Homo sapiens: one gene and its partner. The protein of the gene in region 1 interacts with the protein of each later gene in a biochemical or structural test. Each region holds a gene or a part of one and is shown on either strand. Other genes may lie near its edges.

The links. Proteins that work in one complex are often made in the same cells at the same time.
Region 2: the proteins of NUDCD2 (region 1) and MYH9 form a complex in vitro, tested with the Homo sapiens proteins (one study listed by BioGRID).

What each region holds. Positions count from the first base shown.
Region 1 is NC_000005.10:163,450,097-163,457,133, forward strand, and holds part of NUDCD2 (nudC domain-containing protein 2), read right to left. Parts: intron 6,985-7,037; coding exon 6,833-6,984; intron 3,955-6,832; coding exon 3,871-3,954; 3' UTR 1-3,870. UniProt on the Homo sapiens protein: May regulate the LIS1/dynein pathway by stabilizing LIS1 with Hsp90 chaperone.
Region 2 is NC_000022.11:36,280,743-36,286,967, forward strand, and holds the end of MYH9 (myosin-9), read right to left. Parts: intron 6,166-6,225; exon of another isoform or gene 6,105-6,165; coding exon 5,976-6,104; intron 5,212-5,975; coding exon 5,123-5,211; intron 5,040-5,122; coding exon 4,916-5,039; intron 4,588-4,915; coding exon 4,379-4,587; intron 3,770-4,378; coding exon 3,661-3,769; intron 3,524-3,660; coding exon 3,351-3,523; intron 2,044-3,350; coding exon 1,926-2,043; 3' UTR 538-1,925; downstream 1-537. UniProt on the Homo sapiens protein: Cellular myosin that appears to play a role in cytokinesis, cell shape, and specialized functions such as secretion and capping. Required for cortical actin clearance prior to oocyte exocytosis. Promotes cell motility in conjunction with S100A4.

The DNA of each region.
Region 1 (7,037 bases):
AAAATAAAAAAAAAATGGGCTGGGAGTGGTGGTGCACACCTGTAGTCCCAGCTACTTGGGAGACTGAAGCACAAGAATCACTTGAACCCAGCAGGCAGAGGTTGCAGTGAGTGGAGATTGTGCCACTGCACCCCAGCCTGGGTGACAGAGTGAGAATGTGAGTCAAAAAAAGAAAAAAGAAAAATTCCTCATGACCTGGGGTTAAGGTTCCTAGACATGACACCAAAAACATGATCCACCAATGGCATGATGGATAAGACTTCATCAAAATTAAGTCTGTGCTTCAAAAGACACTATCAACAAAGTAAAGAGAGAATAGGAGAAATTACAAATCATATACCTGGTAAGAGACTTGTACCCAGAATATATAAAGACTCTTACTACCCAATAAGACAACTAAAAAAATGGGTAAATAATTTGAATAAACACTGCTTTAAGGAAGATACACAAATAGCCAATAAGCACAAGAAAGAATGCTCAACATAGTATCAGAGAATAGCAAACCAAAACTAGATAGAGATCCCATTTCATATCCACTAGAGTGACTAAAATCAAAATGTCAGGTAAACAAGTATTGGCAAGGATGCAGAGAAAATGGAACCTGCATACACTGCTGGTGGGAAAGTAAAAAGATGTAGCTGCTTTGGGAAACAATGACAGCTCCTCAAATGATTAACATAGTTATCATATAACCTAAAAATTCTACTCCTAGGTAAGAAATGAAAACACATATGCACATAAAGACTTGTACACGTTTATAGCAGCTTTAGTCAGGACAGCCAAAGGGTGGAAATACCCAAAATGTCCAACTTACAAATGTATAAACAAAGTGCTACAGCCATACAATGAAGTATTTTCAGACATACTAATGAATGTGCTGATACATGCTCGAATATAGATGAACCTCTTAAGACATGTAAAGTGAAGGAAGCCAGTAACCAAAGACCACGTATTATGATTCCATGTACATGAAATGTCCAGAATAAGGAAATCTATGAGATGAAAAGAGGTAGTATGGATGGCGGGGGATGACAGGAGAAGGATAAAAGCTAAACTATACAAGGTTTCTATCTGAGGTGATGAAAACATTCTAAAATTGATTATTGGAATGGTTGCATTTATCTGTGTATATACTAAAAGCTACTGAATTACACACCTTAAATGGGTGAAATGTATGTTGTTACAATAAAGCGTTTTTCTTAATTATATATGATCCCATTTATAACATGCTTGAAGACAAAAATATGGAGATGGGGATTAGATCAGTGGTTTCCAAGGTTTAGGGGCTGGGAGTAGGGTGTGTAGAGTACAAAGAGAGCACGAGAGTTTTTACGGTGATTGAACTCTTCAATACTCTGACTGTGGAGGTGTTTACACATATCTATACTTAAAATTCACCAAACCATACACCAAAAAAGTTAATTTTACTTTACTCAAAAAATTTTGTTAAATGTCAAAGAGAATAAAATTAAAAGAAAAATAGCCTCTTCCCCCGACAATTCATTCCTAAAATGAGCAAGATAGGAATCACAGGGTGAATGGACTGCCATGGCCTGGAGTGAGGTATTAGGGTCCAGGCAGGATGAGGAGGACATTCCTGCTCAGCATAGGATGCGAAGCCTAAGCAGGGTGAGGAAGACATTCATGTGGGGAGATGACCTACAATAGAGAATCAGGCCAGGCGCAGTGGCTCACACCTGTAATCCCAGCAATTTGGGAGGCCCAGGCGGGCGGATCACCTGATGTCCGGAGTTCGAGACCAGCCTGACCAACATGGAGAAACCCCGTCTCTACCAAAAATTAAAAATTAGCCAGGTGTGGCAGCGCATGCCTGTAATCCCAGCTACTTGGGAGGCTGAGGCAGGAGAATCGCTTGAACCCAGGAGGCGGAGGTTGCAGTAAGCCGAGATCGCGCGACTGCACTCCAGTCTGGGCAACAAGAGTGAAACTCCACCTTAAAAAAAAAAAACCCCACAAATAATCAAATAGGAATCAGGTTTCTCACTGGTACTGAAAACGGTTATAAATGTGGAGAAGGAAAAAATGAAAATGAAGCCCATGGGATCAGAATTTATATGTGAATTCATGGTTTTCAATATACATAGATGCAGAAATATAGATGTAAAGACATGCATTATATATACACACCAACGGCAATTGCACACTAGCACAGATCTTGGCTTTTAAATATTACTCACTAAAGAGAACCCAGGCTCTACGGAAAAATGGCTGATTCTTGGGTTAGGTCGAGGACAGCATGAGAAGCCTGGTATATCTTATGCCAGAGAGTAACAAATTCATTGAATAATGATGGGAATGTGTCAGAAGGACACAGAGGCCACCCAGAATGGACTTCTACCAGCCAAATGTACAATAATTTTGAGCACCAATGTAATGATAATAGGTTTTTTAACCTGCTGAATAAAATAGAAAATAATGAGTTTATAGAGATACGATAAATTTAAAGTCTGATCAGAAACAAGGTAGTATTTTGCAACTATCTTCTCAAGAAATAATTATAAAAATAACTACAGTGGAGAAGTCTGGCAGACACTACCTTAATCAGTCATCTAAGAAACACCATCAGAAATGAGACAAACTGAAATTATTAAACAATGACAGGATGCACTTCTATCACATTCCTGCCAAAGATGAATAACCTCAATCTAATCATGAAGTATCAGACAGAACTCAAAATAAGGGGTGTTCTACAAAACTAGCCCATAATTGTCAAAAGTACTAAGTTGTAAAAGGAAACAAATGAGAATTTGTTCCAGAATGAAGTAAACTAAAGACAGCTGACATCTAAATGAAAGGCATGATTCTGACTGGATCCTCTTGCTATATGGACATTATTGGGACAATCAGTTCAATGTGAATGAAGTGAAGATCTGAGGATTAGAGGGTAGTAATGTGTCAACGTAAATTTCCTGATTCTAATGGTTGCATTGTAGTCATGTAAGATAATTTGAAGCAGATAGTAATCAGTAATGAGGAATCATGTCTTCAACTAAATCACAAATGGTTCAGAAAGAAAAAAATTATCTGTAACTTTTCTATGCATGAGATTTAAAATTTTTTCAAGAGTTAAAAAGGGCAAAAAATAAAAAGGACATAAATAGGATATTGAATAAAATGTCTATAGACAATTCCTACCTATATGCCTAAATCACTTACAATCAAAATGATGCCACTGATATACAATTAGTGACCTTACTTTGCTTTCTGCCACAAAGGACTCACCTAATTACCATGATCACACTTCTCTTTTGTGTTAATCCACTTCTATTGTTAGGGTTTTAACTATTTTTAAACTTCTTGACATAAAGTAATCCCTCAAGTAATAATATTCTAATTAAGAAATTTACATTAACTCTTAATTTACTTAAAATACATTTATGGACTTTTTCCTTTATTAAAATTGTTTTCAGCACTATAATTTTGTGTGAATTGTTATACTTAGACAAAGGGGTACACAATTCCTATTTAGAAAATTTTATTGAATATCATACTTATCAAAAGAAAAAGTTAATTTTCCCCAAAGGCACCCTTCATTTCACATGATCTATACTCTAATGTTCTTTTGTATTAAAAATATGGTTAAATATGGAATTAGTAAAATGCAGCATATAAAACTTCATGCTGAGCAAAAACAAGTCCAAAACAACTTTACCATATATCCATAGAATAGTTCCCACAGTACATTTCCTATGTAAATTATGTTTGAATGCAATTTTTAGAACCATTTTAAGATACATTTTGCAATCTGTTAACTGTAGGCATCCGCATTTTTCTTCCATTACATAATCTGTTTATCTGATTAAGTTGGCAATATCTGCTAGGATCCACAGAATGCAGGAAAAAAAGCAGTTATTTCTCAAGGTTTGAGAAATCTGGTCCACCTTTAGTGTAGTTTCCTGAGATTTCTGCTCCACTGAAGTCAAAACCAGGATTCTAAAAGATACAAACATATATATAATGAAATAAAACTTATAAGGAAAAATACAAGTACAAACTGGCAATTGATAAAAAAGGATATATAAATGACCAATAAATACATGAAAATATAACAGACTTCACTGTTACCACCAAAGTAATATTTAAAATTATGAGGCATTTTTCAACTCTCCCAGTTACAAATATTTAGACATCATATGTACACTACAATGTTGGCAAGTGTATGGGGAAACATATACTTCAATAAAAGTCTGTAGTTATATTTAATAGCTAGCATTTTTATTTTATTTATTATTATTTTTTTTGAGACGGAGTTTCGCTCTTGTTGCCCAGGCGGGAGTGCAATGGTGCGACCTCAGCTCACCATAATCTCTGCCTCCCAGGTTCAAGCGATTCTCCTGCCTAAGCCTCCCGAGTAGCTGCGATTACAGGCATGTACCACCATGCCTGGCTAATTTTGTATTTTTAGTAGACACGGGGTTTCTCCATGTTGGTCAGGCTTGTCTTGAACTCCCAACCTCCGGTGATCCGCCTGCCTCAGCCTCCCAAAGTGCTGGGATTACAGGCGTGAGCCATGGCGCCCAGCCTATAGCTAGCATTTTTTGAGAGCTTTCTATATGCCACACAAATTTCTAAGAGCTATACATATATAAGATATTTAACCCTCACAACAGTCCTGTGAAGTACTATGTCAGGCCTTAGTCTTTTTGGTGGGCTATTTCGTTTATCCAACAAACATTTGTTGAGCTCCTACTGTTTGGGAGACCATTAGAGGTATGTAGAATTCAAGAGTGAAAAAAAACAAAAATCCCTGCTCTAGTGGAACTTAACATTCTAGCAGGAGGAGACAAACCATAAATCAACCAGTACAGGGGCTGGCAGACTTTTTAAAAACTAGGTAGTAAATATGTTAGGCTTTGCAGTCCACATAGTCTCTGTCACAAATACTCAACTGTCTGAAAGACAATATACAAACAAATGAGCATATACGTATCCTAGAAAAGCTATAAAACAGGTAGTGGGCCAAATTTGGCCCAAGGGCTGTAGTTTGCCAACCGCTGATGTCGTGTTAAAAGTTGGTAAGTGACACAGAAAAAAAAAAAAAACAGGATAAGGGAAATAAAATTATATTTAAATGGGATGATCAAAGTATGCTTCATTGAGCAATGATATGAAAACATAAAAGTTAGCCAAACTGTGGGAGAAGAGCATTGCAGTCAGGATAGCAAAGGGATGGGCTGACATGTTCTTTAAGGAACAGCAAACAGGCCAGTATGGCAAAAGCAGAATCACTAAGAGGGATAGCTGTAAGGGAGGAGGTAATCAGGGAGATGATGGAATAACTGATCAGAAAGGGCCGAGAAATGACTTGCAGAGTTCTGAGAAGTGGCATGATGTGACTTGGATTTTAAAAGAACTGCTCTAACTGGCTGGGCGCGGTGGTTCACGCCTGTAATCCCGGCACTTTGGGAGGCCAAGGCGGGCGGATCACGAGGTCAAGAGATTGAGACCATCCTGGCCAACACGGTGAAACCCCACCTCTACTAAAAATACAAAAAAATTAGCCGTGCGTGGTGGCGGGAGCCTACAGTCCCAGCTACTCGGGAGGCTGAGGCAGGAGACTGGCGGGAATCCGGGAGGCGGAGCTTGCAGTCAGCAGAGATCGCACCACTCCATCTCAGAAAAAAAAAAAAAAAAAGAACTGCTCTAACTGCTATTTTGAGAAGACTATGGCAAGAGTAAAAGTGAGAAGACCAATTAGAACGTTATTAGAGTAATCAGGCAAGACATTAGAGGTGGTCCAGATCAGAATGGTGGTAGAGTTGGTGGTGAAAAGTGGCCAAATTCTAAATATATTTCGAAGGTAGCATCAGTAAGATTTCCTAATACATTGGATAGGGTATGAGAAAGATGTAAGAATCAAAGATGAGTCCCAATTTTTTTTGACCTGAACTACTAGTTTTCATCAACTGAGATGAAAAGGCTACAGGTAAAAACAAATATGGAAGGATGTTAGGGTGTTCAACTTGGACATGTTGAGCTTAATATACATTAGATAGCCAGGTGGAGATGTTGAATAGGCAACCGGGTATGCAGGTCCTAAATTCAGAAAAAAAGTCTAGGCTAGAGATATACATCTGGAAATCATTATCATAAAGACGTACATTATCAAGTGCTGCAATCTAGCAATTCCTCTCCTAGATATTTATCTTAAAGATATCTTAGAACACTTGAGTAGTTTCACAGAGATGAAAGCACAGCTTTCTTTAAAATAGAGAAAAATGAAGAAATCTAAATCATATCAAAGGCAAACAGCCAAATAATGATGACACATCCAAACTACAGAATCCTCTGAAGCAGTTAAAAAGAATGAGTTTTATACCTATGTATTAGTAGGGAAAGAGACCCACAGCATATTATTAAATAAAAAAGCAACAAGAAGAACAATACACACAGTGTGATCCTCCATTTATGCTAAAAAACAAAACAAAACAAGCAATAGCCAACATATGAGATGAAAATGAGATAGATGCATGGAATGGGGAGAATGGTGGTGAAGGGGCCTTTCACTTTTTACACTAGGTAAGTCTATATTGATTCAACTATAGTAAGAGTTTATTCATGCATTACTGATGTACATAAAAGTAAGCTTAAACTCACAAATCACAGCAATACAAATAAATTCCTCTCAAGAAAATCTTCCGAAAAATCAAATCCATACAAGAAAGGCCATTTTTCTAACAATTCACTTTAAAAATTCTTCTAGAAAATGTTTGTAACTTTTCATAATGACATTTGAGTTTTAATTTCAAATATTTATTTGATGATTTTTATATATTTAATTACACATACTCATACACTTCATCTGACTTACTTCTTTTTGGAATCTCTCTAATGTAAGCTTTCTCTGCATTTGGTCTTGCACCCAAGGATCCGCTGCATATTCAGATTCTAGTAGAGAAGTCCAACAATTTGCTGCATCTCTCTTTGTCTTTGTAAGAACAATACGAACCATTTTTCTGTCCTCTAAAAAAAAAACACACACACACACACGCACAAATAAATTAGAGTTCTTCATC
Region 2 (6,225 bases), on another chromosome or scaffold:
AAGCTGACCCAGATAGTGTCCACTTTTTTAAATTTTTTTATTTATTTATTTTGAGACAGAGTCTCACTCTCGCCCAGGCTAGAGTGCAGTGGCACAATCTTAGCTCACTGCAACCTCTGCCTCCCGGGTTCAAGCGATTCTCCTGCCTCAGCCTCCTGAGTAGCTGGGATTACAGGCACACACCACCACGCCCGGCTAATTTTTTTTGTATTTTTAGTAGAGATGTTGGCCAGGCTGGTCTTGAACTCCTGACCTCAGGTGATCCCCCTGCCTCAGCCTCCCAAAGTGCTGGGATTACAGGCGTGAGCCACCGTGCTCGGCCTTGAACCAAGGTTTCTAAGATGCTCTTAGCCTCCTTGGATCTGGCCTAGCCCACCTTTCCATCTTAGCTTTTCTGCACAACCGCCCACAGCTAGCTCAGCCTACGCCTCAGCCAATCTGGTTCCCGACGATGCAGAGCCGGCATTGGCTGCAGAAGCCAGGCCTAGTCCTGTCCAGGGCCCCCTGGCCGCAGACAAATGCTACAGACACGGCTCGTAGCACATGGTTCTCTTTATTGTGATGCTCAGTGGAAAACATCTGTAAACCAGCTTACTGTAGTGGTGACAGCTGCAACACATGCTAAGGCACTTTTATTATATAAAAAAGGGGGTAGGGTGGGAGTTTCACTCACTCCTTTGTGACAGCAACTGGGACCTGAATTCAGAGCTTTGTAGGCATATGCAGCTTTTATATCACTTCATGATTTGAGAGTTTGTTTCCTTTAAAAAAAAAAAATGCCTTCTTGCCGTAAGTCTCAATGCAGCATATACAAAACAGTTAGGAATACAAGTAAATTCGGCAACCAGTGTAGACCAGTGAGGACGAGCTACTCTCTTCTAAACAAAGGCAGTGAGAAAGACTCGGAATTTTATCATTTATTACAAGAAAGGGGAAAAAAGAAAACCTTATTTTGCTTTCAAAAATACCTGTGCAGGTGGCAGATTTTTAAACTATACTGAGTCAACGGTGCAGGTAAACCACCCTCGGGCCCAGTCCTAGAGTAGACACAAGATCGCCTGGGAGGGCCGCTGGCCCCTCTAACGCTCTGGCTGTCAGACTTGGGACAAGTCCCTTAACCATTAAATATATTTGGTCCCCAAGAGTGTTGGGAGAAGCCACTGGAAGGCTGCTGGCCTTTCCAGCTTGACCCCGACAGCCTTGCTGTGGCAGAGGCAGGCTGTCCTCGGTAAAGGAGGGGAGGGGGCATTGCACTTGAGACATTTTAGAATCAGGAGGGAGACAGCGGACAGTGGCGCTGCCTGGGACAGGGTGGGGAGGAATCCACTCCTCCCCCCACCCCAGCCTTCTGTGCCCTGCACAGAGGTGGAGGCCCAGGGCCTGCTCCTTCTGGACCGCCCAGAGCCATGGGAGTGGGAGGCCCAAGGGGCAGAGGTGTGTGAGGTCACCACGTGTGATTGCAAACAGCAAAGAAAGGAGGAGGAGTGGGGGCGCTGGTGGCAGACGTCAGGGAGGCTGACGACTGCGGGGGCTCCGACTACCAAAAGGCCTCAGTCTGAAGAAAAATAGATTCATAGAAAACTCTGGCCCCTCCCCGGGGGCCTGCCCTGCTCGCCTCAACATCTTGTGCTTTTTGGCAAGAGAGGGCTGAGGAGCCTGCTGGTCGCTCTCTGCCTGGGCCCGGGCCCTGTCTCTTTGGTATCAGATTCTGAGCAGGGGAGGGAGCTGGAAGGGGATGCAGCAGAGGAAGCCAAATGCCCTCAACAACACCTGGAGGGAAACGGGATGGGGGGACGGGGCGGAGGGCAGGAGGAGGCATGTTCACAGCAGTCCCAAGAAGGTGGGGAGAGGCGTGCTGCGGGGTCTGGGAAGGGGAGGCTGTGGTGTCTGTCTGTCCATCCATCTCAGGCTGCAGGAGAAGAGGCTTATTCGGCAGGTTTGGCCTCAGCCCCATCCGCTTTGCCATCTACCTCTTCGTCGGAGCCATCCCCGGCGCCTTTCCGGGCCATTCGGCGGGGCACGACAAACGGCAGGTCCCCGCGCCTGGGGGCAGAGGTAGAAGCAGAGGGTCAGCGGGCCCGGCCAGGCCAGGGGCGGCCACAGCACAGCCCACACATCTCAAAGTGAATTCGAGAGGGAAACCAGGTGCCTGGCTGCTCCCACCAGAAAGAAGCAAAGTGGAGTCTTGGGAGCCACAGCTGAGCTAGACAGGACCACTCTCAGGAAAGCAGGCAAAGCTTCCCGCAAAATGTTTAGGTGTCGGACATCTTCACACACAACAGTAGCACAAAAACAGCTCAGGCAAACAGGACCAATTACAACAGGAAAGGCACAAAAGTAAGTGTAAAATGCCATCCTCTGTTGCAACTCCTATAAAACCGGTGAAACCAAGACAGGTAAACAGGTGTGCCTGTTCACACAGAGTACAAAGACAGGCACCCTCTTTCTACCACATGGCAGAAAATTCATATACAATACTGACTACTTATGCTTACAAAAAGAGCCCCATGAAGGCCTGGCACGGTGGCTCATCCTTGTAATCTCAGCTCTCTGGGAGGCCGAGGCGGGTGGAGCACCTGAGGTCAGGAGTTTGAGACCAGCCTGACCAACATGGTAAAACCCCGTCTCCACTAAAAATACAAAAATTAGCCGGGCATAGTGGTGCATGCCTGTAATCCCAGCTACTCCAGGGGCTGAGGGAGGAGAATCGCTTGAACCCGGGAGGCAGAGGTTGCAGCAAGCCGAGATTACACCATTGCACTCCAGTCTGGGCAACAAGAGCGAAACTCCGTCTCAAAAAAAAAAAACAAAAAAAATAAAAAAAACACGTAAACACATAAGAAAAAAACATGTAAGAAATGAGTATCTCAAAAAACACAAAATGAGAGTCTCAAAAAACCCACAAAAAAACACGTAAGAAATGAGAATCTCAGAGAATAAGATCCTCTGCTTCAAACATTCACTACTTCTTGAGTGTTAACACTCCCTGAGAAACGCAAAGGAGCGTTTTTAACCTCTGTAGGCATTGCTCATGAGGCTCACATTCGTTTTGCAGATATTTAACTGAGGCACCTAACATGTGCCAGGACTGGGCCAGGTGGCCTCAAGCAACTTCCAATTCAAAAGACAATAGACTTTTAGGACAGCTGGGAATAAACTACCTAGAGTTTACTGTGTGTTCAAAACACTAAGCTAAAGCCTCAAAGGCAAGGAGCCAGAAGGGGCAGGGATTGCTTTGTGCAGTCCTTTCTTGGTGACATTCGTGCCTTGCTTGTGGGCTCTGGTTGAGGAACAAGCTACCTTTTGAGAGAAGTGCCGAGGCAAAGGGGCGGGTGGGCAGGGCGGCTCACCTGAGCTTGTTCTTTAGGGAGCTGACTTCGCGGTTCATGGCATCGGCCGTCTCAGTGGCGTCCTCCAGCTCGCGCTGCAGTTTCCGGCGGGAGGCGTTGGCCCGCTGGGCCTCCTCTTCGGCCTCCTCCAGCTGCCGCTTGAGCTGCTTCAGGCGGGTAGATGCCTTGTCGGCCTGCGGAGATGGACGTGTGGCCCGTGGCCCCGGTTAGGGGCTCTGGGCGTGCAGCCAGTCAGCCCCACTGCCCTGCCTGTCACCCCATCTGCTGCCCAGCCCCGCTGCCCTTCTCACTGCCCCACCAGCGCCCACACCTGGTCCTTGTACTGCTCGGCGTTCCTCCGCTCGTCATCCACCTGCAGCAGCACATCCTTCAGCTTCTTCTCGGTCCGACGCACCTGTTTGCAGGCTGCCTGGCGCTCCCTGCATGACAGACAAGGTGGCTCAGAGGGAACACCCTCCTTCAGAGGGTCCGGCCAACAAGCCCTAACCAGGACCACCCATTCCCCGGGGCTCACTGGCATCTAGGGATCACGTAGGGAGGCCTTTGCTAGACACCTATGTGTACCCGGCTTCTTACGACGGGCACTGCAAATAGCCCCATTTACAGATGAGGAAATGGGCTCAGGTAAGGGAAGCGACACACCTCAAAGAGCATCTATGTAACTGGAAAAGAGGTCTGGGGGCCTACTGTAAACCCCATTCCCTCCAAGGAAGTCTCAGTCCTGCTGAGCCCATAGGACAACTGTCCTAGTGGGCAGGACCCCCCTGTACCTCCTGCTCTGATTCACTCTCAGACACAGCCACCAAAACTCCTGGCTTTAGAGGTGGAACAGAGAATCCTGTTCAAACCCCACAAGCTCCCCCAACCACCCAACCTGTGGAAGGGATGAGGGCCCCATCAGGAGGGAGGGAAACAGCCCCAGGCTCAGGAGACAGAGAGCTGGTTGTGGCCCAGATTTGGGCAGGACTGCAGGGGGGCCAGAGTTTTTTCCAGGACAGCTGGGGTTGGGCGGGGCCAGGGGCACGTACTTGGTCTCGTTGTCCAGCTGCTCCTCCAGCTGTGCAATCTTGGCCTCGAGGGCGGTGATGGAGGCCTTGTACTTGGACTTGACAGTGCCCTCCATCTCCTGCAGCTTGACCTTAAGCTCCTTGTTCTGGCGTTCCAGCTGCTGCCGAGCATTCTCGTTCTTCTGGGCGTGGCTGCGCTCCAGGTTCAGGTCGGTGTTGATCTGGTCGATCTGCAGAAGAAGGGCCAGTGACCTTGGGGAGGGCTGGGGCCCTGGCTGGAGGGCATGAGCAGGGCCAGAGGAAGGTGGCAGCAGGATCCCACCAAACCCTTGGGGTCCAGAGTCTTGGGTCTCCCAGAAAAGGGAAGATTAGAAACTTCTGAACACCCAACACAGAAGCCAGAGGGGGACCTTTCAGGTCCAGGTGCCTGGACATTTTCCCCTAAGCGCCTGGGGAGCAGCTGGCACTTGGCCTGTGCTTCTGCCGGCTGGGTCCAAGGCCAGCTCTGCCGTGGTGGCTCCAGCCAGAGCCCAGAGTGGGAGAAGTCCTGGCACCCACCTGCAGGTTGGCCTTCTTCAGCCGGTCGTTGATCAGCTCCGTGTTGCCCTGCTCCTCCTCCAGCTCCTCCTCCAGCTGGGCGATGCGGGCCTCCAGACGCCGCTTCTCCTCTAACGCCAGGGCTCTGCGGGGTGGGCGGGAGAAGTGAGGGGCCTACCCTGGGGACACACCTGGTCCCCCCCAACTCTGCCCCCTCACTCAGCTCACCCTTTGCCGCTGCTGTTGGCGATCTCGTCAGCCAGCTCATCCCGCTCCTGCTGGGCCTGGCGCTTGGCACGCTCCGCGGCTGCCAGTTCCTGCCACAAAGACCCAGAGTGTGACCTAAAGGCAGCCACAGCCCCACAAGACCATCCTTCCCAGCCCCAGGCACCCTCCCCTCAAGCCCTTCCCCAGGCCCACCTCCCCACGAAGCCCTTCCTCCAGAAACCCTCTAGCTCACAGGGCTGGTGCCCCCCTGAAGATATAGCTTAAACACCATATGTTTATAAAACTCTTACATTTAAGTGCTAGGAATCAAGCCAGGTGCCAGGGTATGGCGATAAGTAAGAAGTGTCCTGGCCTAACCAGGGAGACCACGTGGACAGAGTCACTCAGGGCGGCCCCTCCCTGTTCTGGGTAAGCCAGAGCTTGGAGTCAGCTCTGGAGGCCACAGGCAGATGGCTACACCCTGGACGCACTCGCAGCCGGCACATCACGCTGCAGGGCACCCTCCAGACCTGGGAAACACTTCAGGACGGGCTCAGGTGCGACGGGCAGGGCGGCCGAGGGGACGCTCAGACCCCTTCTCACCAGGCAGCATTCACAGCAGGAGGTGGTGGTGGCCACAAAGCCTCATCTCATGTGAGGGATGCCAGTTTCACACACACACACACTCTGATCATACGAGGGAGCCCCGCTATGAAACGGAACCCTGGAGGGAATCCTTATGTAACCTGAGAGCCATCCCCAGCCAATTCCTGGAGCCCAGTAGGACTCCAGCCCTGTCCTCAGCTGAAAGCCCCACGCTGCCACCTGCTGGCCGCAGGGCAGCGGTGCCGCTCTCCATTGCAGCCCCACCCACCTCCTGCAACTGGATCATCTCGGCCTCCATGCTCTTCAGCTTCTTCTCGTTCTCTTTGGCCTGGGCCAGGATCTCCTCACGAGAGGCGCGGGTGTCATCCAGCTCGCGCATGCAGTCCTTCATCTGGGCCTGGGGTGGGGACAGAGGCTTGGCACCCCACCCAGCTCCTTGGCCCTCCACCCCAACCCTCATGGGTCACCTCGCCAACAGGGCTCATGGCTGGTGCTCCACTCAATGCTGTATTTAACCA